3 linked regions of the Homo sapiens genome follow. The protein of the gene in region 1 purifies or fractionates together with the protein of each later gene. This does not show direct contact. Each region holds a gene or a part of one and is shown in the gene's direction. Other genes may lie near its edges. The genes, in order: DEGS1, EIF5B and ZFTRAF1.

Region 1 (12,076 bases):
ACGGCGGATTCGTAGGCATTTTTCATCCATCTCGGTTTTGTGGATGAAAAGACTGAAAATGGAAGACTTGCCAAATAAGGAAAATATGTGGCGTGGCCTGCTGGTCCCCTGACAGCTAATTGAGAGGCCTTAACTCTCCAGAGGATTCGGGCCTTCTGTGTTACATAGAGAATGCTCATCTCTCCCAGGCTACTCCTAATATGCTAGGGATTGTGTGGAATGCTTTACAAACATTACCCAATTTCATCCTCTTGGTAATTCTACTTGGTTGGTATTATCGCTGTTTTAAAAAATGAAATAAGAACGCGTGACTAAATGCTAGGGGGATTCTAATGCGCATTCGGTTGCCTCTTCCAGAGCACGTGTTTGTTTTTTGTTTGTTTGTTTTTTGAGACTGCACGTGTTTGTTTTTTGTTTGTTTGTTTGTTTGTTTTTTGAGACTGAGTCTCACTCTGTTGCTCATGCTGGAGTGCAGTGGCGCGATCTCCACTCGCTGCAACCTCTGCCTCCTGGGTTCAAGCGATTCTTCTGTCTCAGCCTCCCGAGTAGCTGGGATTACAGGTTCCCACCACTACGCCTGGCTAATGTTTGTATCTTTTTTAGTTAGAGACGGGGTTTCACCATGTTGGCCAGGCTTATCTCGAACTCCTGACCTCAGGTGATCCGCCCGCCTTGGCCTCCCGAAGTTTTGGGATTACAGGCGTGAACCACCGTGCCCGGCCAGAGCACGAGCTTTTTAACCTCTGTTGAGGAAACGGGGACCGGTCACGGTAGCTCAGGCCTGTAATCCTAGCACTTCGGGAGGCTGAGGCGGGAGGATCGCTTCAGCCCAGAAGTTTGAGACCATCCTGAGTAACATAGTGAGAGCCCCCCGTTTACACACACACACACACACACACACACACACACACACTTTTTTTAAATTGAGGAAACGGTGAGTTGAACATGAGCAATTATTCCTTATATATAGTATTTCCTTAGTTTTTCTTCTCAACATTCATTTGCCCAGTGAAAAGAAAAAGCAAGTAGCTGGGACCACAAGCGCACACCACCATGCCTGGTTGATTTTTCTATTTTTTGTAGAGATGGGTTTCTCCGTGTTGCCCAGGCTGGTCTTGAACTCCTGGGCTCAAGCAATCTGTCCGCTTTGGCCTCCCAAAGTGCTGGGATTTTAAAGGCGTAAGCCACTGCACCCGGTAACTTTGGGTTCTTGAATTCCCTTCCTCCTCTTCTTCCTCCTCCCCTACACTCCATTAGAGAAAGGGTCTTGCTTTGTTGCCCAAGCTGGAGTGCGGTGGTTGTTCACAGGCATGATGATCACTGCAGCCTGGGCTCCAGTGGTCCGCATACCTCAGCCTGCCAGTAGCAATTTGTTTGGCACATCACTTACACATACTTGATATGAGATAGCATGATACTTTTTTGAGACGGAGCCGCACTCTGTCACCCAGGCTGGAGTGCAGTGGCCCAGTCTCGGCTCACTGCAACCTCTCCCTCCTGGGTTCAAGCAGTTCTGCCTGCCCCAGTCTCCCGAGTACCTGGGATTACAGACGCCCGCCACCATACCTGGCTAAGTTTTTCTATTTTTATTTTTAGTAGAGACAGGGTTTTGCCACATTGGCCAGGCTGGTCTCAGATGATGCGCCTGCCATGGCCTCCCAAAGTCCTGGGATTACAGGCGTGAGCCACCCTGCCAGGCCACATATGATATATTTTATCAATGCCTTATCTACATGTTACATAGGAATAATCTAGCGTCCTACCTGTGTAAAAACCAACTCTGGAATACTGAAACTGAGCTACTTAATATTCTGAAAATCAGGACGGGTGTGGTGGCTTTTTTTTGCCTGTAATCCGAGCACTTTGAGAAGCTGAGGCAAGAAGATCGCTTGAGGCCAGTTCAGAACAGCCCCATCTGCACGAGAAATTAAAAAATTAGCTAGGCGTGCATGCCTGTCCCGCTACTCAGAAGGCTGAGGCGAGAGGAACACTTGAACTCAGGAGTTCGAGGCCAACCTGGGCAACATGGCAAAACCCCATCTCTACCAAAAAAAAAAAAATTTAATTAGCGGGACATGGTGGCATGTGCCTGTGGTCCCAGCTACACAGAAGGCTGAGGTGGGAGGATTGCTTGAGCTGGGGAGGTAGAGGCTGCAGTGAGCCGTGATTGCCCCACCGCGTTCCAGCCTGGGCAACAGAGTGAGACTGTCTCAAGAAAAAGAGATGAAGGAAGTGAGAAGGTGCTGATTGATACTTACCTCACACTGAGCCTTTTTTCCCCCCACAGACTTATCACTGAACCATTTCACTGGGAAAGTAAAAGGACCACATATTTCTTGGCCGGGCATGGTGGCTCACGCCTGTAATCCCAGCACTTTAGGAGGCTAAGGTGGGCGGATCATGAGGTCAGGAGATCGAGACCATCCTGGCTAACACGGTGAAACCCCATCTCTACTAAAAATACAAAAAATTAGCCGGGCGTGGCGGCAGCCACCTGTAGTCCCAACTACTCAGGAGGCCGAGGCAGGAGAATGGCGTGAACCCGGGAGGCAGAGCTTGCAGTGAGCTGAGATGGTGCCACTGCACTCCAGCCTGGGCGACAGAGTGAGCCTCCGTCTCAAAAAAAAAAAAAAAAAAAAAAGAAGGACTACATATTTCTCAATGAAAATACAGTGTACAATGTTTTCCATGCAGGTGTAAATACTAACTCATGTTCTGTTTCAGGGTGGGAGATGGAATAACCTGTAGAAAGAATCTTTAGATTTGTTTAAATTATACACAAATGATAAGAGATCTTTCTGAAAGTATTGACTTTTTGGCGGGGGAGGGAAGGGGCCTGATAGAACAACCAACAATTGTACACTTTAAGTTTACATTTAGAGTTCACATTAAAAGTTCATTTACAAGGCATCTGTTTGAAATTCGTGAGGATGAGCTGGGCTGGGTGGCTCATGGCTGTAATCCCAGCCCTTGGGTGGCTGAGGTGGACAGGTCACCTGAGGTCAGGAGTTCAAGACCAGTCTGGCCAACATGGTGAAACCCCGTCTCTACTAAAAATACAAAAATTAGCTGGGTGTGGTGGTGGGCGCCTGTAATCCCAGCTACTGGGAAGGCTGAGGCAGGAGAATTGCTTGAACCCAGGAGGCAGAGGGTGCAGTGAGCTGAGATCTCACCATTGCACTCCAGCCTGGGCAACAGAGCGAGACTCCGTCTCAAAAAAAAAAAAGAATAAATCACAAGAAATGGTTCCTTCACTGTTATACTTTAACATGATACAGCTTTTTAATGTTTTATTTTTTGAGAGAGAGTCTCACTGTGTTGCCCAGGCTGGAGTGCAGTGGTGTGATCATAAATTCTTGGGCTCAAGTGATGCTCCCGCTTCAGCATCCTAAGTAGCTGGGACTACAGGCTTGTGCCACCTCACCTGGCTAATTTTTTTTATTTTTGGTAGAAATAGAATCTGTTTGCCCAGGCTGGTCTTGAACACTGGGCCTCAGGCAGTCTTTGTGCCTCAGCCTCCCAAAGTGCTGGATTAATGGTGTGAGCCACAGCACCTGGCCAATAGCTTTATTGAGATTATAATTCAACTATCATGATTTATTCATTTAAAGTGTACAGTTCAGTATTTTTTAGTATATTCACAGAGTTGTGCAGCTGTCACCACCATATAACCTTAGAACATTTCATCATCACCAAAAGAAACCCTATACTCATTAGCAGTCCCTCATATCCCCTGCTTCTACCTAGGTAACCACTAATCTACTTTGTGGCCTATAGATTTGCTTATTCTGGACATTTCATATACATGAAATCATAAAATACCTGATCTTTTATGATTGGCTTTTACTTAGCATAATATAAATTTTTTTTTTTTTTTAATTTGTAGAGACAGGGTCCTGTTATGTTGCCCAGGCTGATCTTGAATTCCTGGGCTCAAGTGATCCTCCTGCCTTGGCCTCTCAGAGTGCTGGCATTATAGGTGTGAGCCACTGCACCCAGCCATTAGCATAATATTTTAGCTGGGCACAGTGGCATGCTCCTGTAGTCCCAGCTACTAGGGTGACTGAGGCAGGAGGATCACTTGAGTCCAGGAGTTTGAGGCTGTAGTGAGCTATGATGGCATCACTGTACTTCAGCCTGAGTGACAGAGGTAGACCCTGTCTCTAAATATTTTAAGGTTCATTAAAATAATATATTTTCAATAAAATAATATTTCAATAAAATAATATTTTAAGGTTCATTCATGTTATAGCATATGTCAGTGTATGATTCCTTTTTCTGGCTGAATAATATTCCTTTGTATGGATATACCAGGTGTTTAACATTTTGAGGAACTGCTGTACAGTTTTCCAAAGCAGCTGCACCATTTTATATTCCCACTAGCAAAGTATGAGGGTTCTAATTTCTCCACATCCTTGTTTTTACCTACCTTTTTTTATTATAGTCATCCTAGTGAGTGTGAGGTGGTATCTATGGTTTCAGTTTGCACTTTCCTAATGACTAACGGTGTTGAGCCTCTTTCATGTGTTTCTTGACTGTTTCCGTATCTTTTGGAGAAAAGTGGGTTCAGATCCTTTGCCCATTTTTTAATTGGATTATTAGTTGTAAGAGTTCTTCATATATTCTGGATATAGGTCCCTTATGAGATACATGATTTGCAAACATAACCCCGCTTCTGTGGATTGTCTTTTTACTTTCTTGACAGTATCATGTGCAACAGAAAGTTTTTGATGCTGTCCGATTTCTCTGTTTTCTTTTGTCACTTGTACTTGTTATAGTATCTAAGAAACCACAAAGGCCATGAAGATTTATTTCTATGTTTTCTTATCAGAGTTTTATAATTTTCTTATAAATTTGGGTCTGTGATCTGTTTTGAGTTCATTTTTGTGTATGGTGTAAGGTAGGGGTCTGAATCCATTCTTTTGCCTGTTGATAACAAGTCGGTCTAGCACCATTTGTTGAAAGGACTGTTCTTTCCCTGATTATATTGGTAGCCTGTAGTATTGGTTTTTATATACTATTACAATTTTGGGAAAATTCAGTACAGAATTACTTGGAGCATGTTGATTTGTCTGAGAAAACTGTGAATACCAGTTTCATGATTTTAGGGTAACTACAAAATGTATATTATATTCTATCCTTTGTCAGATGTGTTAATTTAATCGTTTTATATAAGGTAAGAATGCTGTACCTCTGTCTAAACACAGAAATAACATGTATTTTAATATAAAGAATGTGGAACTTCTAAACTTTGAGGCTAATTTTTCCTGCATAAATTCTCAAATTATTGTGACATGATATTTCATAACTTTACTAGTAGAATCCTTCCCTGTGTTATTAAATATCCACTAAAGTCTCTAGTAAAGGGAATATGATTTACAGAACAAATTTAATGTGTTAGTTTAATTGGTGTTAATTTAATTATAATTGGTGAACTATTACATACTTTTCTTAGTTCCTGTTTTTTTGTTTTTTCTTTACAGCAAAGTATCCAGAGATAAAGTCCTTGATGAAACCTGATCCCAATTTGATATGGATTATAATTATGATGGTTCTCACCCAGTTGGGTGCATTTTACATAGTAAAAGACTTGGACTGGAAATGGGTCATATTTGGGGCCTATGCGTTTGGCAGTTGCATTAACCACTCAATGACTCTGGCTATTCATGAGATTGCCCACAATGCTGCCTTTGGCAACTGCAAAGCAATGTGGAATCGCTGGTTTGGAATGTTTGCTAATCTTCCTATTGGGATTCCATATTCAATTTCCTTTAAGAGGTATCACATGGATCATCATCGGTACCTTGGAGCTGATGGCGTCGATGTAGATATTCCTACCGATTTTGAGGGCTGGTTCTTCTGTACCGCTTTCAGAAAGTTTATATGGGTTATTCTTCAGCCTCTCTTTTATGCCTTTCGACCTCTGTTCATCAACCCCAAACCAATTACGTATCTGGAAGTTATCAATACCGTGGCACAGGTCACTTTTGACATTTTAATTTATTACTTTTTGGGAATTAAATCCTTAGTCTACATGTTGGCAGCATCTTTACTTGGCCTGGGTTTGCACCCAATTTCTGGACATTTTATAGCTGAGCATTACATGTTCTTAAAGGGTCATGAAACTTACTCATATTATGGGCCTCTGAATTTACTTACCTTCAATGTGGGTTATCATAATGAACATCATGATTTCCCCAACATTCCTGGAAAAAGTCTTCCACTGGTAAGTAAAGGATTTGATACATATTCTAATTTTGTTTTTTCATTTGTTTGTTTTTTGAGACGGTGTCTCACTCAGTCGCCCAGGCTGGCGGGCAGTGGCACGATCTCGGCTCACTGTAACCTCCACCTCCCGGGTTCAAACGATTCTCATGCCTCAGTCTCCCAAGTAGTTGGGATTACAGGCGCATGCTACCACGCCCAGCTAATTTTTGTATTTTTAGTAGAGATGGGGTTTTGCCATGTTGGCCAGGCTAGTATTTTGTCAGTCCAAGCAGTTCATTAAAAAAAAAAAAAACAAAAAGAGCAAGAATATAAATACTGCATCTTCCAGCCTACTTTTACAAAGGGTTCACTCTTGGGTCCTTAAGCTTAGTGGTTACACTTAGGATTTATTTTTAATTTTATTTTTTAACTTTATGTTTTTTTAGAGACAGGGTCTTGCCCTGTCACCTAGTCTAGAGTGCAGTGGTACGATAGCTCACTGCAGCCTCAACTCCTGGGTCAAGCGATCCTCCCACCTCAGCCTCCTGAGTAGGCAGGATTATAGGCACGTGCCACCATGCCTGGCTAATTTTTTATTTTTTGTAGAGGCAGGGTCTTGCTGTGTTGCTCAGGCTGGTCTCAAACTCCTGGATTCAAGTGATCCTCCTGCCTCAGCCTCCCAAGTAGCTAGGACTACAGCCACATGCTATGACAGGCTGATTTTTTAAATAATTTCTTTTAATCCTCCAAATGGTTTGTTAAAATTTTTAACATTTTTAACATTTTTATAGAGCTGGAGTTTCCTGGATGGGTGCAGTGGCTCACACCTGTAATCCCAGCACTTTGGGAGGCCTAGGTGAGTGGATCATCTGAGGTCAGGAGTTCGAGACCAGCCTGGCCAACATAGTGAAAGCCTGTCTCTACTAAAAATACAAAAAACTTAGCTGGGCATGGTGGCGGGTACCTATAGTCCCAGCTACTCGGGAGGCTGAGGCGGGAGAATCGTTTGAACTCGGGCAGTGGAGGTTGCAGTGAGCCGAGATTGTGCCACTGCACTCCAGCCTGGGTGACAGAGCGAAACTCCGTCTCAAAAAAAAAAAAAGAGAGAGATGGGTTTCCCTGTGTTGCCCAGGCTGGTCTCAAATTCCTGGGCTCAAGTGATTCTCTTGCCTTCCAGAATGATGCTGGGATTATACATACGAACCACTGTGCCCATCCAGATAGTTTTTTAACTTGAGATGAAAAGACATTTTTAACTTGAGATGGCAGAATTGCACATTTGATAAGTGCTTTTTTTTTTTTTTTTTTTTTTTTGAGATGGAGTCTCTCTCTCACCCAGGCTGGAGTGCAGTGGCACAATCTCGGCTCACTGCAACCTCCGCCTCCCGAGTTCAAGCAATTCTCCTATCTCAGCCTCCTGAGTTGCTGGGACTACAGGCGCACGCCACCATGTCTGGCTAATTTTTTTGTATTTTTAGTAGAGATGGGGTTTCACCATATTGGTTAGGCTGGTCTCGAACTCCTGACCTCAGGTGATCCACCCGCCTCGGCTTCCCAAAGTCCTGGGATTACAGGTATGAGCCACCGCACCCAGCCAAGTGCTTAATTTCTATCTAATTAGCATGCCACAATTTATTAGTATTTGTAAGTTCCTGGATGGCAGGGATCAGATGTTGCCTTTATATTCTATGGCGTCATCCATGCAGTACATTCTTTAATAATATCAAGTTAATCTAATTGTATGTATTTGTTGTTAATTTTACAAATAAGCCAGATATTTAGTCCCTTGGAATGTGATGGGAGAGAGACCTAGAGGGTCGAGTGTATTCAACTGCTGCTGAAATGTAGACTGCTTTTTGTTTAGAATTCCCACAGCTGCTGCTGCTGCTGCTTTTTTTTTTTTTTAAGAGAGAGGAGGGAGGCAGGTCTCATGGTTTCCCTTCTCAGTGTTTGTGTCAACCATTCATCAGTCATCTTTGAAAGAACCTAGTAACACTCATTTTTCATCTTGCTGTATTTTTTCCCTTCTAGGTGAGGAAAATAGCAGCTGAATACTATGACAACCTCCCTCACTACAATTCCTGGATAAAAGTACTGTATGATTTTGTGATGGATGATACAATAAGTCCCTACTCAAGAATGAAGAGGCACCAAAAAGGAGAGATGGTGCTGGAGTAAATATCATTAGTGCCAAAGGGATTCTTCTCCAAAACTTTAGATGATAAAATGGAATTTTTGCATTATTAAACTTGAGACCAGTGATGCTCAGAAGCTCCCCTGGCACAATTTCAGAGTAAGAGCTCGGTGATACCAAGAAGTGAATCTGGCTTTTAAACAGTCAGCCTGACTCTGTACTGCTCAGTTTCACTCACAGGAAACTTGTGACTTGTGTATTATCGTCATTGAGGATGTTTCACTCATGTCTGTCATTTTATAAGCATATCATTTAAAAAGCTTCTAAAAAGCTATTTCGCCAGGCACGGTGGCTCATGCCTATAATCCCAGCACTTTGGGAGGCCAAGGTGGGTGGATCACCTGAGGTCAGGAGTTCGAGACCAGCCTGGCCAACACGGTGAAACCCCATCTCTACTAAAAATGCAAAAATTAGCCGGGCGTGGCGGCACATGCCTGTAATCCCAGCTACATGGGAGGCTGAGGTGGGAGAATTGCTTGAACCCAGGAGGCGGAGGCAGAGGCTGCAGTGACCCAAGATTGTGCCACTGCACTCCACCCTGGGCAACAGAGCAAGACCCCATCTCAAAAATAAATAAATATATATAAAAAATAAAAAGCTATTTCTAGTTTATTTCACTATAAAGTTTTGCTTTATTAAAAAGCTAATAAACAGCTATTAATCACAGTGTATTAGTATTTGTTACATTTTTGTATTTCACTATCTTTATACTATATAATATGGTAACTTGGGTACCGGGGGAACTTTAAAATTTCATCTCAAAAATAATTTTTAAAAAGCCTGAGGTATGATATAGCATAAAAGATTGAGATGAAAATATATTTCCCTGTAAGCTGAATTACTCATTTAAAAATTTTAACTTCTATATGGGACCCGAATTAGACACTGCTGAATCCTGTACAGCCTTACTCATAAATAAAGTACTTACTGAATTTCCACCATTCAAATTCATTTTTCAGGTGTGTTGACTCTCACATTAGAAACTGCTCAACTGATAAAGACTTTCATGTTATTTCACTGCAGTGGGAACTGGCTGTGGTCTGATGGTAGATCGTTGGTCTCAAGTAGCTGGTAGCATGGGCTGTTGTTATGTCAGCAGTCTTGCTTACCTCAAATATGTCACTTGGATACGTTTAGTGTAATATGGTGAATTATTTTAAAAATACATCAGCAGCTGGGTGTGGTGGTTCACACCTGTAATTCCATGCTTCGGAAAGCTGAGGCAGGAGGATCGCTTGAGACCAGGAGTTTGAGACCAGCCTGGGCAACATAGTGAGACCCCATCTTTTTTTATTTTTTATTTTTTGAAATGGAGTCTTGCTCTGTTGTCCAGGCTGGAGTGCAGTGGCGCAATCTTGCCTCACCACAACCTCTGCCTCCTGGGTTCAAGCGACTTTCCTGCCTCAGCTTCCTGAGTAACTGGGATCACAGGCGTGCACAGCCATGCCCAGCTAATTTTTTTTTTTTTTTTTTTTTTTTTGTATTTTTAGTAGAGACAGGTTTTCACTATGTTGGCCAGGCTGGTCTCAAACTCCTGATCTCAGGTGATCTGCCTGCCTTGGCCTCCCAAAGTTCTGGGATTACAGGCATGAGCCGCTGTGTCTGGCCCCCATCTTTTCAAAAAATAAGAGTGGTGTGGTGGTGTGCACCTGTAGTCCCAGCTACTTGGGAGGCTGAGATTGAGACTACAATGAGCCATGATCGCACTACTACGCTCCAGCTTGGGTGACAAACACCCTCTAAAAAAAAAAAAAAGTTGGCTACATTGCAGTTTCGTAAAGAATAAAACAACACCCAGAATGCTGAGGGCGGGGTGAGGAGTAGAATCCTCTGTGGGACTGCCAGGCCTGTCTCACAGACCTCATTTCATCCCCAAAATACTTTGCTTTCCCTTCCTGACCCCCTTGCCTAGGAAAATTCCTAGTATCTTCTAATCTGTTACTCAAAGAACAATCAAAGAGTGACAATAGAACCAAGTTTACAATTCAGATTTTACTCAGTCACTAAAGTATCTGCAAAACATACCCCTGGATTTGATGCTAGATCATAGAGATCATGTACTCCCATCAAGTCTATAGAACTCTGGCCAATGGCACCGGGCGTGGTGGCTGTAATACCAGTACTTTGGGAGGCTGAGGCAGGTGGATCACGAGGTTAGGAGTTCAAGACTAGCCTGACCAATATGGTGAAACCCTGTCTCTACTAAAAAAAATACAAAATTATCTGGGCATGGTGGCATGTGCCTGTAGTCCTGGCTACTCGGGAAGCTGAGGCAGGAGAATCGCTTGAACCCAGGAGGCAAAGGTTGCGTGAGCCGAGATCACGCCCTGCACTCCAGTCTGGGCGACAGAGCAAGACAACGTCTCCAAAAAAAAAAAAAAGGCCAGGCGCGGTGCCTCACGCCTGTAATCCCAGCACTTTGGGAGGCCGAGGTGGGCGGATCACGAGGTCAGGAGATCAAGACCATCCTGGCCAATACGGTGAAACCCCATCTCTAGTAAAAAATACAAAAAATTAGCCAGGCGTAGTGGCCGGCGCCTGTAGTCCCAGCTACTTGGGAGGCTGAGGCAGGAGAATGGCGGGAACCCAGGAGGCGGAGCTTGCAGTCAGCCGAGATCGAGCCACTGCACTCCAGCCGGGGCGACAAAGTGAGACTACGTCTCAAAAAAAAAAAACAACAACCAAAAGAACTTTAGCCAATGGCTGCAGCTGCCATGTAAATGCTGAAAACCTCCAAATCTATCACTTCAGACCTCTCACTACCTGCTGGATGCACAGAGTGGGTTGTCATCCCTCTCCAAAACTCCAGTCTCCACTTACATAACCACTTCTTTCCTGAATGGAAGTTTCAGTCTTCGTAGCAGGCATCCCGATTATTCTGGCTCCCATCTGCCAACTCGATCCATTCTTTAAGAGAGCTACCAATCTGGGCAGTAAGAAGGCTGGGCCCCATAACCTCTAAAGAATAACTCCAAACAAAATTATCCGGGCCTGGTGTTGTGTGCATCTGTGGTCCTAAGCTACTCAGGAGGCTGAGGTAGGAGTTTCGCTTCTTTTTTTCTTTTTTTTTTGAGATGGAGTCCTGCTCTGTCGCCCAGGCTGGAGTGCAGTGGCTCGATCTGGCTCACTGCAAGCTCCGCCTCCCGCGTTCACGCCATTCTCCTGCCTCAGCCTCCCGAGTAGCTGGGACTACAGGCGACCACCACCACGCCCGGCTAATTTGTATTTTTAGTAGAGACGGGGTTTCACCGTGTTAGCCAGGATGGTCTCAATCTCCTGACCTCGTGATCCGCCCGCCTTGGCCTCCCAAAGTGCTGGGATTACAGGCCTGAGCCACCGCCCACGGCTGGAGTTTCGCTTCTTGAACCCAGGAGGCGGAGGTTGCAGTGAACTGAAATTGCACGCCATTACACTCCAGCCTCGGTGACAGAGCGAGATCCCGTCTCAGACAGTCCTAAGAAATCACTCAGTAGCTTTGCATGAGTTCTCCCTTCTGTTGTAAACTCCTTTCTCCGTTTCTCTTCTGGTTCAAAGTTTCACACCTTCAAGGCTCACAGCAGCCTTCTGTTACCCACCCCCAGTCCCCAGCAGGTCAGGTGTCAATTTTTTTGACTTTGAGAACCAATGATTATCTCTTCATGGCCCTAATCATACCATTGTGTAAATAGGCACTGT
Region 2 (12,076 bases), on another chromosome or scaffold:
GAACCCAGGAGGTGGAGGTTGCAGTGAGCCGAGATCACGCCACTGCACTCCAGCCTAGGCGACAGAGTGAGAGTCCGTCTCAAAAAAAGGAAAAAAAAAAAGAAATTTTCTTTACTGAACTAAAGCATCTCTTACAAGGTGTCCATTATAAAGGCCACATTACATGAGTTGTTTTCTTACTGTGCCATTCATTTGGATTCATCTGCCTTTGCTACTTGGACATTTTAGACTGGACTGCCTTCATTTTCTGTAGGTTTTAGCTGGAACTTAATTTGGTTTACTCCAAGTAAGTTGGTAGGTGACGACATTGTTGGATGGATCCAGAAATGAAACCAGGAGCAAGCAGGTTTAGTTCTGGATTTTTGGTTAAGTATTTTATTTAGTGAATCATTCCTAATTCATTTAGATTTGAATGTGTGGTTATGTTTTTCTCAGGACATTCAATCCTTGTGCATTTTAGTTTTCCCATTGGTAAAATGAGATAATAGGCTAGGTGACTGATCTCTAAACTTCCTTCCAACTCTGAAATTTCTGCTATTCCAAGTAAAAATGCACAGGGATCCAAATATTTAGGTGTTGTTATTGATCGTCGAGAAATAAGACTTGTTTTATGTTTTAAGATCTCCCATTTTATAAATAACTTCATTCAGACGCACAAAAAACCTTTGGTATCTGTAAAAGTTAATTTCCTTTTCTTGATTACCCTGATTTTTTTCTGGAGCTTTTCATTATCTGTTCCTTATTTGAGTGTAATCCAGAAACTTCACTGAAGCAGATGTAGGGAGGCTGATAAGTAGATGTAACTTGTGTTGTAATGAAAGAACTTGCCAAATGATTTTTCTCATTGTGCTGCTAATGCATGAAAAAGGTTAAAATGATAAAATCTATATAAATGAATGATTATTTTGCTTTTAAGTAGCATTTAGGATGTTTTTGTTTTCATTTAAGCACCAAGGATGACATTGATCTTGATGCCTTGGCTGCAGAAATAGAAGGAGCTGGTGCTGCCAAAGAACAGGAGCCTCAAAAGTCAAAAGGGAAAAAGAAAAAAGAGAAAAAAAAGCAGGACTTTGAGTAAGTATATTTTAAATATATTTGATTTTTATTTGTTTTGGTACTGGATTCACTTAATAAAAACTATACCAGTGCTTCACAATGTATTTTAATCCTTTTCTAGTGAAGATGATATCCTGAAAGAACTGGAAGAATTGTCTTTGGAAGCTCAAGGCATCAAAGCTGACAGAGAAACTGTTGCAGTGAAGGTGAAAGACAGACCTTTGTTACCTATTCGTATTTCGTATTCTATTCTTTCTTCTTAATGTTGGTTTGGGGAGCTACATTTGGAAACTTTTGAGCAGTGTACAATATGTTATTTAAAAGCTTCTATGAAATCTGATGTCAAAGGGAAAAATAGGAATGTAAAGGTATTTTGTGGTATGTTGATTGTTCATAAAATTGGTACATTTGGAGTTGTGATGTAATCACTCGTTCCATCTTCAGTTTTCTCTGTTGTTTCTTTTTCATCCTTCGAATTTGGATAAGCCTCAGAGTAATGGGAAAATCATAGATATTTTTTCTTCTTTCAACTTGTCCCTTAGGCTTTGTAAAGTTAGTAAATGGGTGGTGACTAGTGCCTGTTTCAAGAGCCCCTGGATTCTGCAATTTACAATGATGCGAGATGTGTCTGAGGCCAAGGCCAACCTCTCTTGCTTGTTTGAATTTTATATTCCTGTGAAAAAGACTTTGAAAAAGATTTTGAAATCATTTTGAGATTTTTAAAAAATGTTTACTTAATGAAGCACATGACTCTGGTCTCAATTATAATTCTGTTAATTTTTTCTAACAATGGAAATTTTTTAGCCAACAGAAAACAATGAAGAGGAATTCACCTCAAAAGATAAAAAAAAGAAAGGACAGAAGGGCAAAAAACAGAGTTTTGATGATAATGATAGCGAAGAATTGGAAGATAAAGATTCAAAATCAAAAAAGACTGCAAAACCGAAAGTGGAAATGTACTCTGGGAGTGATGATGATGATGATTTTAACAAACTTCCTAAAAAAGCTAAAGGGAAAGCTCAAAAATCAAATAAGAAGTGGGATGGGTCAGAGGAGGATGAGGATAACAGTAAAAAAATTAAAGAGCGTTCAAGAATAAATTCTTCTGGTGAAAGTGGTGATGAATCAGATGAATTTTTGCAATCTAGAAAAGGACAGAAAAAAAATCAGAAAAACAAGCCAGGTCCTAACATAGAAAGTGGGAATGAAGATGATGACGCCTCCTTCAAAATTAAGACAGTGGCCCAAAAGAAGGCAGAAAAGAAGGAGCGCGAGAGAAAAAAGCGAGATGAAGAAAAAGCGAAACTGCGGAAGCTGAAAGAAAAAGAAGAGTTAGAAACAGGTAAAAAGGATCAGAGTAAACAAAAGGAATCTCAAAGGAAATTTGAAGAAGAAACTGTAAAATCCAAAGTGACTGTTGATACTGGAGTAATTCCTGCCTCTGAAGAGAAAGCAGAGACTCCCACAGCTGCAGAAGGTTGGTTAATACTTTAGAGGAAAGAGCAAAAGGCTTTTGATTCACAGTATAAGTTGTAATCATTGTGCCCCAAGGTCGTTTTGTTATTTGTCCATGGGTATAAAGACACTTGATTGTAAGGAGCCATCTAAAAAATTACGTCTAAGTATTTGACTTGATTTGCATTGTTAATTCTTTACATATATAGTATAAATATCTTTCAGATTATTTATGTACAGACTGGAATTTTTATAGAATTGCATTATGAAAACTATTTTTTTTGCTGTTGATAAAGGCTATAGAAGTTACTTAATGAAAAATTTATTCTTCCTTTCTGATAACTCAGTGTCAGATAATATTTGAATTCTTTCCTGTCTTTAAAAACCTAGTTCAATTTATGAAATTCACAAAGAAATGTTTTCATGAAGTTGCTAATATTTTCTGCTTCACTTAAAACTCAACATGCTAAAATTAGTGTCTTTTAAGCAATAATGAGCCATTTTTTTAACAACCAATTATAAAATAAAAGTTCTAGCTAATTTCTTCCTCTTATTTAGAATGAAAATAGCTAAAGATCAGATGGTTTGCATGGCCATACTATATTCTTAAAACAGTAGTTTTTGGGCTGGGCGCGGTGGTTCACGCCTATAATCCCAGCACTTTGGGAGGCTGAGGCAGATCACGAGGTCAGGAGATATAGACCATCCTGGCTAACATGGTGAAACCCCATCTCTACTAAAAATACAATAATTAGCCGGGCATGGTGGCGGGCGCCTGTAGTCCCAGCTACTCGGGAGGCTGAGGCAGGAGAATGGCGTGAACCCAGGAGGCGGAGCTTGCAGTGAGCGGAGATCGCACCACTGCACTCCAGCCTGGGCAACAGACTGAGACTCTGTCTCAAAAAACCAACAAAAGCAGTAGTTTTTCTTTTGACTGGAAAACTTTTAATGGGAAAATTGACACAACTTTTTTTTTTGAGACGGAATTTCACTCTTGTTGCCTAGGCTGGAGTGCAATGACACGATCTCAGCTCACTGCAACCTCCTCTTTACAGGTTCGAGTGATTCTCCTGTCTCAGCCTCCCAAGTAGCTGGGATTACAGGAGCCCGCCACCATGCCCGGCTAATTTTTGTATTTTTAGTAGAGATGGGGTTTCGTCATGTTCGCCAGGCTGGTCTCGAACTCCTGACCTCAGGTGATCCATGCACCTCAGCCTCCCAAAGTGTTGGGATTACAGGTGTGAGCCACCGTGCCCAGCAACTTTTTTAAATGCTAGCATATTTATTATCTGGATATATTCGAGGAGGAACACCATGAAAGTACCTTCATAGCTTTTAATTCTTTAGAGTTCTTGGAGTATAACTACCTATATTTTTGTATTTTATCCTACTAATACCCCCTAAAGTGGACATCATTCTCATTAACTCCATCTTGTAGAAGTGAAATTAGCTACAGAACTTACGTGGGTGTTAGTTCATTCTGATTGTTAGAACTTCATATAAGCATCTGTTGGACACCAGCCACTCAGGTACCATGGATTTAGAGATACATTAGGTACAGGATTGCCCTTTTGCTGCTGACAGTATCCTTCTGTCTTACTGTATTCCTCAGGACATCTGAGACCAACATCAGTATTGCAGACTTCTCAGGAGGCCATCTGTGAGTTATTCTGAGCTATTCTAGTTACCAAAGTGCTCAGGATGCCTTGATGCCTGTAGAACTTAGCCTGCTGCTGGCATCGGCCTTGGCCCATTATGGTCCTTGAATTGTGGTTGGGTTTTGCTCGTCATCACCACAGGGAATTGTTTTTTCATTTCAATGCTTTGCCTTTATTCTTTTTGGTAGATGACAATGAAGGAGACAAAAAGAAGAAAGATAAGAAGAAAAAGAAAGGAGAAAAGGAAGAAAAAGAGAAAGAGAAGAAAAAAGGACCTAGCAAAGCCACTGTTAAAGCTATGCAAGAAGCTCTGGCTAAGCTTAAAGAGGAAGAAGAAAGACAGAAGAGAGAAGAGGAAGAACGTATAAAACGGCTTGAAGAATTAGAAGCCAAGCGTAAAGAAGAGGTATGTTTTCATGAAGTTGGTAACATTGATATTGTGTTTAACTTAAAATCTATTCTCTGTAAAATATCTTTACTCTTCTAATTCTGAAAATTTCATAGTTGCATGGTAATTCAGTTATATTATTGTTCCGATACAAATAATAAGATGAAGAGGTACAGCACATCTTATCTTTATTTTCTCAAGAACAGATTGCTCGATACATAAGTTGCTTATGTATCATTGCCAATAATCTGATGTGATATTAATTAATAATCATGTATAACATTTAAAATACTTTGATTTGGAATCTCCTAACATAATACTTTGCATGTGTCTCAAGAGATTTATTTGAAGTTTGGATTGTTTACATTTGAATTTTATAGTTCATTAAATGAATACAGGTTTTGTCTGACATGTACTCTTTTATAGGAACGATTGGAACAAGAAAAAAGAGAAAGGAAAAAGCAAAAAGAAAAAGAAAGAAAAGAACGCTTGAAAAAAGAAGGGAAACTTTTAACTAAATCCCAGAGAGAAGCCAGAGCCAGAGCCGAAGCTACTCTTAAACTGCTACAAGCTCAGGGTGAGTGGTACTCTTCATTAACTGAATGGTCAGAGAGCTCTGCACATGCAGTTATATCCCTTAATGTTCAGAAGGAGAATGGAATTTGCATCAGGACAGTTCCTATGAAAAATCTGTGAAAAAGTTCAGTAAAACGTAAGGAATAGGTGATGTCATTTCATTGTTTAGGAAGATGACATCTACATGAGGATAAAAATTTATATGTAAATGATAGTATGTCTAAATAAGTTATCCTCCCACAAACAAGAATAGTGATAATAATAGAATGAGTCCCTGTGTACCTATCAGCCAGCTTCAACAATTAGGACCATTTGACATTCTTGTTTTGTACCTCTCCATCTACTTTTTATCCTAGCATGTTTTAAAGTGAATCCCAAAAAATAAAAAAGAAATACAGTGATTCCCAGACAGCATATTAGTTTGCCCACATGACCACGGTGAAAAAGTATTCATGACCATTTTTTTTTAACCCTTTCCTTACTTTCTGATGCAACAAGATATCCCAGGTTCATCTTGCATGGGCTGAGACCTGGAATCGGTTGTTTATCCAAAGAGCTTTTGTTCCTTTTAGAGGGTAATAGTGTTTAGAGATCACAACTGGGCATATAATTTATTACTTTTTTGAAAGGTAAGGTGATTTAAAATAGTGTCTTTGCTCCAATGAGAAGAATATATTGGGACCTCTCTTAAATTTCCTGCTCCTATATTCCCTAGATTTTTATATTACAGTCATTTTGGTGTTTATGCTATAATTACAGTAATAGCTACCATTTATTGTGTGCTTAGTGTGTAACTGATGCTACAATGTCTTTGACATTGTCTATTTTTCCCTCATAAAAAAATCTTATAGCTATTTTTACTTCCATCATATAGATGAAGAAATGGTGGTTCAGAGTGTAAACAGCTTACCCAAGGCCACAGAGCTGAAATTTAAGCTGGTCTGTGCAACTTTTTCTTACGCATATGTTCAGCTAGGAACATTAGATGTGAAGAAACCCAGTACTTAGATTTTAGAAAGTTTTATTCTTAATGGAGAATATAGCTTTTGTAAAATTTTAAATGAAATTAGGTACAAACTTGAATATAGTTAGCATTCATACATCAGATTTCATTGGTGACTATTGGAGAGGCTAAAAGCACCCATGAAGAAATTCAGATGGGACCAAGCAGGGAGTAATTTGCCAGTCTCAAAAATGCTGTTTTAAGGAGCAGTTAGACTTGTAGTTATGGAAATTACAGTGTAGAATGGTGGACTTTTAGCATCAGTCTTTAGCATTAGGCTTGTAAGAGATGCTCTCTCAAGTGGCATCCCTGACGCTGGTCTCTTACTCTTCATAGTGTTGTCCAGTGTTTACCATCTTATTAGTTCCCTATTGTCTACTAATAAGAATCCAAATTCCTTAGCTTGACATTCAAGGTTCCCCCCCACCCACAGCCCACTCATGTGAGTCATCTCATTAAAAGATCCTACAGTGTTGTTTCATCGTATGTTTGAAAGACAGCTGCTTACCACATTTATTACCTAGAATATTGTAAAACTTATTCATTGAGCTAAAAATGTACTCTCAGAGAGTGTAGGCATCTGCAGGTGTCTTCATATAATTGCTCTGAAATGTGCAGCAGGTTAACTTTTCAGTCATCCTTTAGCCTGTGACTACTAAGCATATACACACACACACATATATGAGTACTTTATCAATAATTTGTAATAAACTCATTTCAGGCAAAGAGCTTCTTCAAGAACTTGATTGTTATGTCTCAGTTTGCAAAGTGAATGGAATGTCTAAACACATACAAGTCTTGGTGTTGATTCCAAGTACAGCAGCTTATTTGAGAGTCTGAGACTAGAGCAGTAGTCAGTTGATTAAGTCTAGGGTGTTATTGGGACCACCCTTCAGGTAATCCAGCCTACAGTTTCCCCTCAGGCCCATGCTTTTCATCTTAGTAGGTGTAGGCTGCTAGGCAAGGAAAACTTAAAGTGATGATCTCTGCATTCTCAGCTGGCTTTATCCTCTTTCTTTGGTTTGTTTAATGTATTCGTCTTACCAGTCATAGCTATGGTTTTACCATTCTAGCCATTCTTCAGTACATGCACAACACACATCCATATACATTCCTACGTTAGAGATAACATTTTTAGTCATTTTCCTTTATTAGTGACTTCATTCAAAATCCCATGGTATACAATTTCTGTTGTCTTTATTCTAAGGCTTCTGCCCATAGTGAGAGACTGAGTCAGTAATCCAGTAATCTGTAGATTCAGTTCAATCCCAGTCAAAATCACAGCATGGTATTTTGTAGCTATCTGTCAACTAGTTCTAAAATGGATATGAAGAGACCAGAGAGTTAGAATGGCCAAAATATGTTTGAAAAAGGAGAACAAACTTAGAATACCTGATTTCAAGACTTAGTATAAAGCTATAGGAATTAATACAGTGTGATATTGCCAGAAAGATAGACAAACAGATAAATAGTCTATACATGGTTAGTATATAGGTGAAAGGTAATTCAGTGGATAAAATACAGTATTTGTAGCAAGTGGTACTAGAACAATTGGACATCTGTATGCAGAAAAACCCAAAACCAGTTTTAATTCCCACTGTATAAAAATTGACCCAAATGGGTATCATATGTAAATGTAAAATATACAATAATACTTTCAGAGGAAAACATAGGAGGATATCTTGTGTTAGGCAGAGTGCTTAGATAGGACTCTAAACCATAAAAGGAAAAAAGATACATTTTGAGAAAGACCAGTTCAGAACTTTTCTCTGCAAAAGACACTGTCAAGAGAATTCCAAGACAGTACCTCCAAGTCAGATATCTGAGAAAGAATTAACATCCAAAATATATAAAGACCTCTCAAAATTCAACTATAAGAAAACCAATAAGTTCATTTAAAAATGGGCAAAAGGTATCAACAGACACTTTCACCAGAAAGCTATACGCATCTGAAAAGAATGTTCTAAAAAAAGAGAAACCTTTACCACATTCAGAGCAGTTGAAACTCTTTTTTTTTTTTTCTCTCTTTTTTTGAGACAGAGTTTCGCTATTGTCCAGACTGGATTGCAGTGGCGCAATCTCAGCCCACTGCAACCTCTGCCTCCCAGGTTCAAGTGATTCTCCTGCCTCAGCCTCCTGAGTAGCTGGGATTATAGGCACCCACCACCACAATATATATATATTTTATATAATACAATTTTTTGTATTTTTAGTAGAGATGGGGTTTCACCATGTTGGCCAGGATGGTCCTGGACTCCTGACCTCAGGTGATCCACCCACCTCGGCTTCCCAAAGTGCTGGGATTACAGGCGTGAGCCATTGCGCCTGGCCAAAACTCTTCTGCATTAGTGGTGGGAATGCAAGATAGTATAGCCACTTTGGAAAACAACTGGCAGTGTCTTTATAAAAATTAAGGTCATATTTACCTTATGTTTCATCATTCACACTACAAAATATTTGCCCAAGAGAAATGTTCACACAGAAACCTGTCTGAAAATGTTCATACCTGCTTTATTCATAATTGCAAAAAACCAGAAACAACTCAAATGTCCTTCAGCTGTTGAATGGATAAGCAAACTGATATATCCATACAATGGAATGCTGCCCAACAATGAAAGTAAACGAAGTATTGACATGTGCAGCAGAGTGAGTGACTCTCAAATCCATTATGATGATAGAGGCCAGACCGTAAGATTCCATTTATGTGACATTTTAGAAAAAGCAAATCTTTTGGTTGGAGAACAGATCAGTGGTTACCAGAGGCTAAGAAGGTAAGGAGGGTTTGATTACATGGAGCAGCACAGGATGATGGAGTGATGGAGCTTTTCTGCATCTTCATTGTGATGGTGATACACGTATCAAAACTCTCACTGTATGTGAAACGAGGATTTTTACTGTATGTAAATTTTAAAATACCTTATATGTAAAAGATACAAGTTTTTCCATGAATATCCTTTCATATTTTAGGGTATGTGTCTCTGTGGTGAATGAAATGCTATCCTTTAAATAGTACTTCTCAGGTGACATGCAAGTAGTATAAGCCTGAAGTTTTTCATTTTTATCCCTCAGGTGTTGAAGTGCCATCAAAAGACTCTTTGCCAAAGAAGAGGCCAATTTATGAAGATAAAAAGAGGAAAAAAATACCACAGCAGCTAGAAAGTAAAGAAGGTTTGTATACAAAATAGCCTCTAATTTAGGAAATATGTTGTTTGCCTTTCCCCCACAATCTTCAAAACAGTGTCTGTAAAGAAGAAAGGAAAAAATCCGAAATGCATATTGAAACTTATTTTCTAAACTTATTTCTTATTAATGCCATTATTCTCACTTGATTCAAATGACAAGCTAATGGAAAAAGTATTTTACTTTGAAAAATCTGGGTTCTACCCTATGAATATTGTAACTGTTGTTAACTCTGAGAAGTAAAACTACCATTCTTATCTTTTCTTGGTTTCCTTCTTAGCCTTCTGTGATTTTTGTATTTTATTTATTGAGCAGAAAGAGTAGTTTCCTGTAAAACATATGACTATATTTAAACATTTTCTAAACTTGAAGAAATAGGTTTGCACAGGCTGGGTACAGTGGCTCACGCCTGTAATCCCAGCACGCTGGGAGGCTGAGGCGGGCGGATCACCTGAGGTCAGGAGTCCAAGACCAGCCTGGCCAACATGATGAAACCCTGCCTCTACTGAAAATAAGAAAATTAGCCTGTCATAGTGGCAGGTGCCTGTAATCCCAGCTACTTGGCAGGCTGAGGCAGGGAGAATTGCTTGAACCCGGGAGGTGGAGGTTGCAGTGAGCTGAGATTGTACCACTGCACTCCAGCCTGGGTGACAGAGCGAGACTCCATTTCAAAAAAATAAAAAATAAATAGGTTTACACTACTGTTTTTTATTCAGTACTTAATGGAGTATCTTAACAGAAATTATACACCAAAAAAAATATTATCTTGGTTTCTGCCCCTTTTTCAGTGTCTGAATCAATGGAATTATGTGCTGCTGTAGAAGTTATGGAACAAGGAGTACCAGAAAAGGAAGAGACACCACCTCCTGTTGAACCAGGCGGGTAGTGTTATCTGATTATTTAATTAGTGAATTCTTATTAAATAGTGTTGGTGTGTCATAAGTTGTCTTAGTTATTATAAATAATTGGGGAGAACCAAATAAGTATCTGGCTGGATGGCCCTCTTTCTTCATAGTTCTTTCTTTTCTATTTCTTTTCATTTCTACTTTGAATAAGTATCCAAGTGAGACTTGAATCAGTTGTGTTCTTTTCAGCAGTGTTAGAAAATGTTTTGTAGAAAGGATACACTTTGGGAGGGTGAGGCAGATGGATCACGAGATCAGAAGATCAAGACCATCCTGGCTAACACGGTGAAACTCCATCTCTACTAAAAATACAAAAAATTAGCCGGGGGTGGTGGCGGGTGCCTGTAATCCCAGCTACTTGGGAGGCTGAGGCAGGAGAATTGCTTGAACCTGGGAGGCAGAGGTTGCAGGGAGATTTCAGTGAGCCTAGGTTGCACCATTGCACTCCAGCCTGGGCAACAGAGCAACAGTCCATCTCAAAAAAAAAGGAAGAAAGGATAGTAGGTTTTGGATTTTCTCTGATGCTTTTATTTATGAGTCAGAAATCTCAAAAAAAGATCTGAAGGTCTTCATTTAATGCTTCAGAAGCAAATTGGAAGGATTTTTAACTAGAACTTTTTAAGAACCATAAAAATTGGCATTTTTAGACCTTCCTAAAGGTCGGCTTCTATTTACAATAATCAGAGAATTCAACTTACTCATTGTGGGGTATCTGTGTATATGTTGAGGAGTTGGGGAAAAATCTCTGGTTTTAAAAAAAAAACATTGTTCTAACTCTTACGACTAGATATTGATGGGAGAGCTGGGGCTGCCTAAATGTATGTTTGGTATTCAAGAGAATCCCCAGCGATTAAAGATAGGATCAGGAATGGGAAAAGCCTTTACAGAATACTAAGCCTGATTTACATTGGTGAATTATATTATTGATAGTTCCTTTCCTTCTTTTTCTCTTTTCTCTTCTGAGCGAATAGGATCATCTCACCTGGGTAGACCTCAGCCTAGCACTGATATGACGAGATTAGAGAAATTTAGATTGATATGCTTAATAGCAGTCCACTATTTTAGATCGTATTTTTAGCACCAGAAAGAATTGCTAATTTAGATGGATGTTTTGGGTACCTGAGTCTCATTTCCTCCTCAAGATAACTTATGCAGGCTTGTTAGTAAATAATGATTATTTCAGGGAAGCAGGTACCACATGTCCTACCCGTCATCTTACTTTCATTTAAGAATAGTTGTGCCTGGTTAGATTTCAGTAAAGAAAAGCATTCTTGTTAAGAAGAGTATTAGGTCTTTAATGTCTAAATAATATTCAGAATTTTAGCTTTCTGGCTGTTTTGGGGTTATGAGCACAGCATTGACCCAGAGTGATGGTGGTAGTTTTGTACCTTCAACTTCAGAATTTAAGTATATTTAAATACCTGTAAAGGTTAAAAGCAAAATAATAAATTCCTTGCATAAAGTATGAGTTGGATGATCAAAAAGAAGATATATATGAAATTTCATTTGTTTTCAAGAACTGAGTATATTCATGTAGCTTTTTCAAGATCTAAAGAAACATTTAAATTAATTAAATTAATGAAACAATTAGCTTGAATGTAAAATTGGTTAAGTTTAATATGTTGGCAGTAGTAGGAAATGGAAGCATTTAAGTAATAGTAAATTATAACATGCTAGCTATATTAAAAAGATAGTTCTGGCTGGGCGCGGTGGCTCAAGCCTGTAATCCCAGCACTTTGGGAGGCCGAGGCGGGCGGATCACAAGGTCAGCAGATCGAGACAATCCTGGCTAACACGGTGAAACCCCGTCTCTACTAAAAATACAAAAAATTAGCTGGCCACGGTGGCGGGCATC
Region 3 (8,866 bases), on another chromosome or scaffold:
TGGGAGGCACATCACATCCCTGTCACTCCTGGCTGGCCCTGGAATGCCTCAGCCCACACACCCCACTCCAGCCAGGGCTGTGGGAACTGTGTCTGCTCAGGTACAAAAGGCTTTGTTTGTTCTTGGACCTCTTGGTTCTGGTCTGGGCTTCCCACCTCCCATGCTGTGAGCCCCCACGGGCTGGGACCGCAGCTTGCCATGTGTCTCTCAGTGGCACCAAGTGGACGCTCGAGGCTTATGTTGAGGGAGTGAGAGCCAGGATAGGCCACTGGGCGTGCTGGGAGCCCACACAGGCAGGGAGCCCAGCGGGAGGTGCCCTGCTCCTGCCAGCCCCGGTTACCCCAGCAGGCTCGGCACCCACTCAGAGCCCCCATTTCTGCTCCCCAGGCACTCCCTGTGTGCCTACCTGCCCTTGTCCTTGTCCTGGGCCAGCTTGGCTCCTGCCTCCCAGCTCTGAGGAGGTCTCTGCAGGTAGCCAACCTCCCTGGACGAGGGGGCAGCTGCCTCCTCTCACCTGGGCTCACCCTGAGCCAAGTCCTCTCAACCCAGGATAAATGGCCTTTCTGAAGGCCCAGAGAGCATGCCTGCCCCAGTGTGGGAGCTGCATCCGCTCCCCACCTGACAGTGATGGCCAAGAGCCCAGTGTTCCTGGAGGGCTCCCAAACTCTGGACCTGTAGGGGGGTCAGGGCAGTCGCTGGTCCCTAAGGGAAAAGCGTGACCCTCGGCCCCAGGTGGCTGAACCCGTCACTGCCAGGGCGAGCTGTCACCTCTGTGAGCTGATGAGGCCTTGCTTTTAGGACCTCTAATCTCTGCAAGAACCCAAGCTGGCTCTGCCTGTTTCTCCTGAGCAGCTCGCAGTGTTCACCACACTCCAGCACGACTCGGGACAGGCACGTGCGCCCCTCTGCACCAGCTGGAGTCCCTCAGGACACCTGGCTGGAGCTGATGGGCATGGGCGGGTGTGTGCGAGCATGAGCCCGCAGGTCTGTGAGCTTCGTCTCCCTTTCCTTCTTCGCAGTGTACTAATGGTCACTTGATGTGCGCTGGCTGTTTTATCCACCTACTAGCAGATGCCCGGCTGAAGGAGGAGCAGGCCACGTGCCCCAATTGTCGTTGTGAGATCAGTAAGAGCCTCTGCTGCCGGAACCTGGCCGTGGAGAAAGCCGTGAGCGAGCTGCCTTCAGAGTGTGGCTTCTGCCTGCGCCAGTTTCCCCGCTCCCTCCTGGAGAGGCACCAGAAAGAGGAATGCCAGGACAGGTAACTGAGGGTCAGGGGCTTAGCCTTACAGGCGGGGCCCAGGACTGCTGGGAGCCCACCCTGGTGCAGCAGGGCCCTGTGCAGGGTGGTCTGGCTGTCTCTGCTGTCTGGGCCTTGGGGACCACCTGTGTAGCCCAGTGACGGCCCTGTGGGAGGGTGCCTGCACAGGATGGGGACAGGTGGGTTTTGCACCCAGTTGTTATCCGGACATGAGCCTAGCCTTCCAGTGCTCTTTGTGGCTGTGGGGGAGCCCCTTGAAGGGCCCAGGACAGCGTGTCCAACGCAGGACCTCAGGGAGCTTGGTGTGAGGGTACACTGCCCATGGCTACCCATCCAGTGGAGGCAGCCACCAAGTCTCCTGCAGTGAGGCTGTGCAGGACCACCACTGCCAAACAGAGGAGAGAACCACGCCATGGTGCGGGGCACACAGGCTCAAGCTTGCACTCTTCCTTCCCCTCTCTCTCCCTTTTTCTGCCTGTCTCCTTTCTCTCCACATGCTGCCACTCTGACCTCATCCTGGGGGGTGGGCTCACAGTTACGTGTGTCCTGCAGGAAGGGGTTCTTAGCTGGATGGAAGCCATATGGGAGGACAGCTTGTTGCAGCCTCCTGTTCGGGGCTCAGTCTGTGAGTGATGTACCTGCCTCCCCCAGGGTAACCCAGTGCAAGTACAAACGCATCGGCTGCCCATGGCACGGCCCCTTCCATGAGCTGACGGTGCACGAGGCTGCGTGCGCCCACCCGACCAAGACAGGCAGTGAGCTGATGGAGATCCTGGATGGGATGGACCAGAGCCACCGCAAGGAGATGCAGCTGTACAACAGCATCTTCAGCCTGCTCAGCTTCGAGAAGATTGGCTACACAGGTGAGGCGCCCCGCCGCCTGCTGCATGCCACACAGGTGTGGGTTGGGGGGCTGGCAGCCAGGAGTCTGGGGGCAGCAGGCTCTGGGCACTGGGCACTGACAGCGCCGGACAGCCGGGCTCTGGACAAGCTCCCGGTGGACAGGTGGACACCTCGGTCGAGAAGACAGGCCGGAGACTGAGTGGAAGGAGGGGCCGAGGCAGACCCCAGGTGCACACCTGTGTGGCTCTCACAGCAGCCCCGCCCACCTGTCCTCGCCACCCTGGCTTCACCATCCCTGCAAGGTGGCATCTCACTGTGGGGCTCCAGAGCCTCAAGACAGTCAGGGTCTAACCAGAAAGTGGGCAGGTCTCAGGGGGCCTGGGAGCTAGGGGCCTGCCCCTCGGACCCTGGGGCAAGAAGAGCACCCTGCCGAGTGAGGTCCTACCTGCAGGCAGTCACTGCCCCGGCCATGGGCCTCTCAAGGCTGGCACGAAGCCATTCAGGGAGAGGGCTCCACAACAAGCTGAGGGTGCCCGACTCAAACTGTAGAACCGGGAGTGGACACCCACAGACGCCCAGGCTGGATGCGTGCGCAGGCACACTGGATCTCGTGGCTCTCTGGGCCGCTGCCACCGCCTTTGAACGTGTCGGGGAGCAGGAGCCAGGCCAGAGCCTGGCCCAGAGGACAGCGAGAAGCACCTGTTGATGCTGGGGCCACTGGAGGAAGCTCCATCCCTCTACTCTCAGCCCACACCAGGCGGCCAGCTCAGAGCACCAGGCGTGGCGCAAGCAGGGTGGTCGTGGGCAGCCAGTCCCGCCCTGCTGCCTGGACTGTGCCCAGCGGGATGTGGGCCCGAGCAGGCCAGAGAGGCCGAGGGCCTGGGGTCTCTGCGGCAGCCACAGCCCGTGGTGAGTAGCAGCCTTAGCTGTCCTGGAGATACCGGGGCCTCGTGGAGTCTAGGCAGGCTGGGGCACTGTGGCTGTGGCCGTGGCCAGGTGAGAAGCCCCATTCGCGCAGGAAAGACTGGCCACCTGGGAACCCACGCCTCCACGGAGGGACTTGCCGGCCACAGGCTGTGGGCTGCCCAAGAGGACTGTGCAGGCAGGGCTGCCTGCTGATTGGCAGCTCCGGATCAGGCCCGGTGCCTGCAGACCTGGTGCTCCCCTCGGGCAGGGCTGGGTGCCGCAGCCGCCTGCTGGCTTTTCTGGCAGCTCCTCTGTATCAGAACCAATAAAGTGCACTTGTTCTCGGAACCGCATCCTGTCTGTGTGTCTGCTTACCCCGCCCTGGGGGACACCCGGGGCTCGGGGCGGTGAGGGAGGCCAGCGTGGGTCGGGCACGCCTGGGGTGTGGCCTGACACGTGCAGCCTCTGGACTCTCCAGCTAATCCATGTTGATTCTGTTTGTGGTTGTTCCCCTCAAAGCTTGTGTGCACCTCCATTTGCCATAGTTGCGTTTGGCTTGCTTGTGACAAGCAGAGCCCGGTGTCCGGGTAAGTTGCCTTCCTCCCCGGCTGAGCCTGCCCTCGGCCTGGTCAGGGAAGGCGTTGCTGCCCAGCCCTGCCCACACTAACAGCCGGCTCTTTCCGGCCCTGTCTGTCTCCACAGAGGTCCAGTTCCGGCCGTACCGCACAGACGACTTCATCACGCGCCTGTACTATGAGACGCCCAGGTTCACAGTGCTGAACCAGACGTGGGTCCTGAAGGCTCGAGTCAACGACTCGGAGCGTAACCCCAACCTGTCCTGCAAGCGTACGCTCTCCTTCCAGCTCCTCCTCAAGAGCAAGGTCACGGCACCGCTGGAGTGCTCCTTCCTGCTGCTCAAGGGCCCCTACGACGACGTGAGGATCAGCCCCGTCATCTACCACTTTGTCTTCACCAACGAGAGCAACGAGACGGACTACGTGCCACTGCCCATCATTGACTCCGTGGAGTGCAACAAGCTGCTGGCTGCCAAGAACATCAACCTGCGGCTCTTCCTGTTCCAGATACAGAAGTAGGGCGGGGCCTCAGGATGTCCGAGGAGCCCACGGGCGGCATCCCAGCACCGCTGCCCTGTCCACCTGGCTGGCAGCTGCTTCACAGGACTATCTGATCACTTTAGCAAAGGAGGAGAACAAACGAAGCCAACACAGGGCAAGTCTGCATGCGTGCGCGACGGGGCCCCCGCCTCCGGCTCACCCCCCCGACCCCTGCCTCCCCTCCTTCCGAGGGCCGCCAGAGGCTGGGCTGACCCGAAGAGGAGACGGTGCACCAGGCGCCCCGAGGCTCAGAGACGGTGGCAGCAAGGAGGCCGAGAGGCACAGCGACCCTGCCCCAGCCCTTCTGTGCAGTCAGGCGGCGGTGCTGCTCCATCCCTGCGGGTTCCGGCGGGGCGCGGGGGCCTTGCTGACATCAGACGGGATATCCGAATATCTGATAGCAATTAAAAGGCAGCCTTGTTTCGTACTTTCTGTTTTGTTCGAGGGGAAGGCATGGCTGTGAATGGACAGCGTGGGGGCTTTGGTTTGGCCTGGGGGTCAGAGCCTGCCCCGCCCCCATCTGTGTGCCCGCACACGTCCCCCGAGGAAAGACTCAGAGACACTGCCTCCCCCTACACTCTGTCATGGGGTCTTGAGACTGAGGCTTGGGCAGGAAGATCCAGGTAGGGTCGGGGCTGCCCTGGCCAACCGGCCGCTCCCAGGGAGACAGGACTCAGCCACCAGGGCTCAGCAGGCATTTTCCGAAAGCAGGGTGAAATTGTCTCTTCCCAGGAAAAAGATTAAACTCCTTGCAGGCTCTTGGATAAGTTACACAATTTTAGTGAGAAAGAGTCTATTTACTGTAGATTCAGCCTTGAGGGCCCAGCGTCCCCAGGCTGTGTGGAAAGCTTGGGTCAGTGCTTGGGCGCCTGGCTGGGTGAGAGTCTGAGGTGTGTCCCCCATGCTGCTCTCGGGGTCCTGCTGCTGGCCCTGCATTCAGGGCTCGCTGCAGAGGTCAGAGGTTGGGCAGCCCAGCTTCTCACCTGGAGGAGGTGGGCCCTTCCCATCCTCACCCTGGCCGCCCCCTGATGTGCCCCGTGGTGGCTGAGCAGGGCTGGCCTAACAGGATGGGAAGGAACCCTGCCTGGAGGGGTAATCCCTGGTCCTTTCTTCCCCTGGGACTCCCAGGGCTACTGGGAAGGATACAGCTTGACGCCCCCACCTTTGCTTAGGAGATGTGGCTCTTCCGTGATAGCTTTTTGTTGCTTCAATACCAAAGAACTGGTTTCCTCTGCTCCAGTCAGGTGCATTAACTTGCCTCACAGCAGCCCAACCCGCCCCCACTGGCTGCTGGGGCCTGGCCCACATTGTCCTGTGCTTTGCTGGTCACGGGTCGAGGGCTGAGAAATGGAGAGGAACTGGGGGCAGAATGTAAGCGCCATCATCCGGGCGGCTGACCATGGCACAGCCCAGCATGACCCTCCCAGTCAGCTCTTCCCTCCCGGGCCGCCGCACTGCCCCTCACGGGCTGAAACTTTCTGGAGCTGTTTCTGAGAATGCTGTGGGTTTCTACTCCCAGGCCAGGGCGTGTGGCCTGCTGGGAGTGCCTCGCTGCCGGAGCCTTATCTCCTGCAGAGCTGATGTGGCCTGGCCACCAAGGGCATGGGAAGGCCCCATGTTTGGTTTTCTGCTGACCACAAAGAAAGACCCCACCCAGCCCCCAGCACATCCTTGGGAGCAGCTGCCTCTGACTCTGGCACCACCAGGGTGAACTTGGGCACCTCAGGGCTGCGCTTTGGGGCTGTCCTCCCTCATGCTCCACCCACAGGCGCAGAGGGTTGGGCTATGGCTCTACATCTCTTTGGAAGCCCGACGCCCTCTAGCGTAGTGTTTCTGGGTCCAAGGTGATGGTGTGGGGCGCACGGGTGGGGCGGGCTTGCCCTGTCACCTGTTTGGTTGTGTGTGTGAGAGACTGACTCAACGGAGGGACAGGCCCCAGCATGTCTCTGGGGTGGGGAAGGTGGGAGGCTTGTTCTTCATGGGGACAGCCAGGCTGGGACGCCAGGGGCCTGGAGGCAGACGTCTCTGCAGGTTGGGGGGCCACGTGGAGAAAGGAGACCCGGGGCTGGTTGAGCTCCTGCAGCCCCACCTCCGCAGTCCCGGGGCAACCAGCCCTGTGGGAGTTCAGGATGGGAGGGGCTGGCCTGAGGGCAAGGGCAGTGTCCACACAAGGCCCTTCCAGATGTGGGATGTGGGTGCCTCAAGTCTGCAAGTGCGGCCCAGCGTACTCAGCAGGCATCTGCCCTGTGACCATGACATGCAGCAGCTGAGCCTTATGGCCTGGGGGAGCCAGGCACCTGGGAGGACCACGGTGGGTCCTCGGCCACCGGGAACTGGAGCACGGGCTTCCCGTGGCGTTGCCAACGTGGGCCACACATGACAGGACCGCCAAACACACGGCTTGTGTCCAAGACCCTGAGACATCTTGACGTCCCGACCTGCTCCTTTGTCTTCTCTGAGGATGGGGGCGTGGGGGTCCACACTCCGCAGATGTGGGGGGCATAGCCTAAGCCAGGCCCCACCCTTCTCCCTCCCTTGTCTCATCCCCACCCCCTGGTGAGCACCACATCCCTCATTTATAAAAATAGGCCAGGCACGGTGGGTCACGCCTATAATCCCAGCACTTTGGGAGGCCGAGGCGGGCGGATCACCTGAGGTTAGGAGTTTGAGACCAGCCTGACCAACATGGTGAAACCCCATCTCTACTAAAAATACAAAAATTAGCTGGGCGTGGTGGCGCGCGCCTGTAATCCCAGCTACTCAGGAGGCTGAGGCAGGAGAATCGCTTGAACCCAGGAGGCAGAGGTTTCAGTGAGCTGAGATTGTGCCACTGCACTGCAGCCTGGGTGACAAAGCGAGATTCCGTCTCAAAAAAATAATAATTTTTTAAAGAGCAGAGCAAGAAGTGTTTTTACCATTGTTGGAAATGACTTATGTGTCACTTTTGTGGTCTGCGTTCTCTTTGGATATTTTCTGTATGTAACAACTGTAGTTTAAAAAAATATTCCAACCCATGTTTTGTCTGTGTTTCCTTACCAGAAGACAGACACACAGCTGGGCCTTCTGGGCTCTGCTGGCCTCCCCTGCTGCCCTCAGCCTGTGGCAATCTGCACCAGGCCTGCAGCCCTGCACAGCACTGCCTGACGTGTGTACCTTGTCTGGTTACTGGGGAAACAGGCACAGAGAAATTGGGTTGTCAGCCGGGCATGGTGGCTCACGCCTGTGATCCCAGCACTTTGGGAGGCTGAGGCGGGTGGATGACCTGAGGTTGGGAGTTCGAGACCAGCCTAACCAACATGGTGAAACCCTGTCTCTACAAAAATACAAAAATTAGCTGGGCGTGGTGGTGGGCATCTGTAATCCCAGCTACTCAAGAGGCTGAGGCAGGAGAATCACTTGAACCTGAGAGAAGGCGGTTGCAGTGAGCCAGAATCACGCCATTGTGCCCCAGCCTGGGCAACAAGAACAAAATTCTGTCTCGGAAAAAAAAAAAAAAAAAAGAGAGAAATTGGGTTGTCTCTGAAGGGGAATTCGGCTTCCAGGAGCTGGGCTGTCCTGTGGACCCTGGGGCTGAAGGGGATACTTAATCGTTGTCCAGGTAGCTCAGGGAGCCCCTCTGGTGTCCAAGCCACCCTGTCTTCAGCTGTTCATCTGAGTCCTCTGATTCTGAATCTCACTCCCCACTCCCTCCCTCAAGCCTCACTGTGCCCCTCACACACCTCACCAGCTTGCCCTCCAAGTAGTTGCCTTGGCTCAGAGCCATGCTTTGGATGGGCAAGGGGTTGGCAGTGCAGACCTCCACAACCTGTCCTCACACCCAGGCCTGCCTGGATTTCCTGCCTCCTGCAGCTTGTGACTGCACAGGTGTGCAGGCTTGGCCTGGTCCCACCCCTGCAGCCTTGGAGGCACCGAGGCCCAAATCTGCCCAGTCCAGGGGCCACGCCAGGAGGCCAGCGCTCTGCCGTCAGCCTGAGGAGGGCTCCAGCAGCCTTTACTGGACCCAGGGACCTGTCAGTGCATCACACCACTCTCTCCCCAACAGATCTCTCTGGCTGAGTTTTGCCCAACGACTTGCTGTAATTACGATGGAAATTAACTCATCTATCTTCCACTCCTGAGGCTCCTCAGTTGGACTCTGTGCACCCAGCCTCCTCTGGGGCCTCTGGGAAACCAGCCACTGCACCTGAGTGCAGTGCTGGGTGTGCTGTGTAGCCGGGAGTCAGATACCCAAGGCATGGCAGGTGTTTGGTCCTCAAGGTAATGGGGGATAGCAAGGGTATTTTAGAGGCCTGGGTGCCCCATGTCACAGGATTCTAGACATAATTTTGCAGTTGTTTTCTCTCTTTCTTCCTTTTTTTTTTTTTTTTTGAGACAAGAGTCTCGCTCTGTTGCCCAGGCTGGAGTGCAGTGGCGCCATCTCCGCTCACTGCAAGCTCTGCCTCCCGGGTTTACGCCATTCTCCTGCCTCAGCCTCCCCAGTAGCTGGGACTACAGACACCCGCCACCACGCCCGGCTAATTTTTTGTATTTTTAGTAGAGATGGGGTTTCACCGTGTTAGCCAGGATGGTCTCGATCCACTGACCCCATGATCTGCCTGCCTCAGCCTCCCAAAGTGCTGGGATTACAGGGGTGAGCCATTGCGCCCGGCCCTCTCTTTCTTCCTTTCTTTCTTTTCCTCCCTCCCTCCCTTTCTTTTTTTTAAATAAAGATGGGGTATCGGGCTGGGCATGGTGGCTTACACCT

What was found.
Region 2: the proteins of DEGS1 (region 1) and EIF5B purify together in Homo sapiens (affinity purification with mass spectrometry; 2 studies listed by BioGRID and IntAct, with this or other methods). This does not show direct contact.
Region 3: the proteins of DEGS1 (region 1) and ZFTRAF1 purify together in Homo sapiens (affinity purification with mass spectrometry; 2 studies listed by BioGRID and IntAct, with this or other methods). This does not show direct contact.

The regions. Positions count from the first base shown.
Region 1 is NC_000001.11:224,184,094-224,196,169, forward strand, and holds the end of DEGS1 (sphingolipid delta(4)-desaturase DES1), read left to right. Parts: intron 1-5,483; coding exon 5,484-6,226; intron 6,227-6,998; coding exon of another isoform or gene 6,999-7,040; exon of another isoform or gene 7,041-7,063; intron 7,064-8,238; coding exon 8,239-8,385; 3' UTR 8,386-9,348; downstream 9,349-12,076. UniProt on the Homo sapiens protein: Has sphingolipid-delta-4-desaturase activity. Converts D-erythro-sphinganine to D-erythro-sphingosine (E-sphing-4-enine). Catalyzes the equilibrium isomerization of retinols.
Region 2 is NC_000002.12:99,359,288-99,371,363, forward strand, and holds part of EIF5B (eukaryotic translation initiation factor 5B), read left to right. Parts: intron 1-948; coding exon 949-1,074; intron 1,075-1,177; coding exon 1,178-1,262; intron 1,263-1,860; coding exon 1,861-2,533; intron 2,534-4,357; coding exon 4,358-4,575; intron 4,576-4,983; coding exon 4,984-5,134; intron 5,135-9,205; coding exon 9,206-9,304; intron 9,305-10,104; coding exon 10,105-10,194; intron 10,195-12,076. UniProt on the Homo sapiens protein: Plays a role in translation initiation.
Region 3 is NC_000008.11:144,445,614-144,454,479, reverse strand, and holds the end of ZFTRAF1 (zinc finger TRAF-type-containing protein 1), read left to right. Parts: intron 1-1,019; coding exon 1,020-1,258; intron 1,259-1,909; coding exon 1,910-2,121; coding exon of another isoform or gene 2,122-2,300; exon of another isoform or gene 2,301-3,355; intron 3,356-3,709; coding exon 3,710-4,101; 3' UTR 4,102-4,898; downstream 4,899-8,866. Other genes in the region: TMEM276-ZFTRAF1 (uncharacterized protein LOC157542 isoform 1 precursor), read left to right, coding at 1,020-1,258, 1,910-2,121, 3,710-4,101.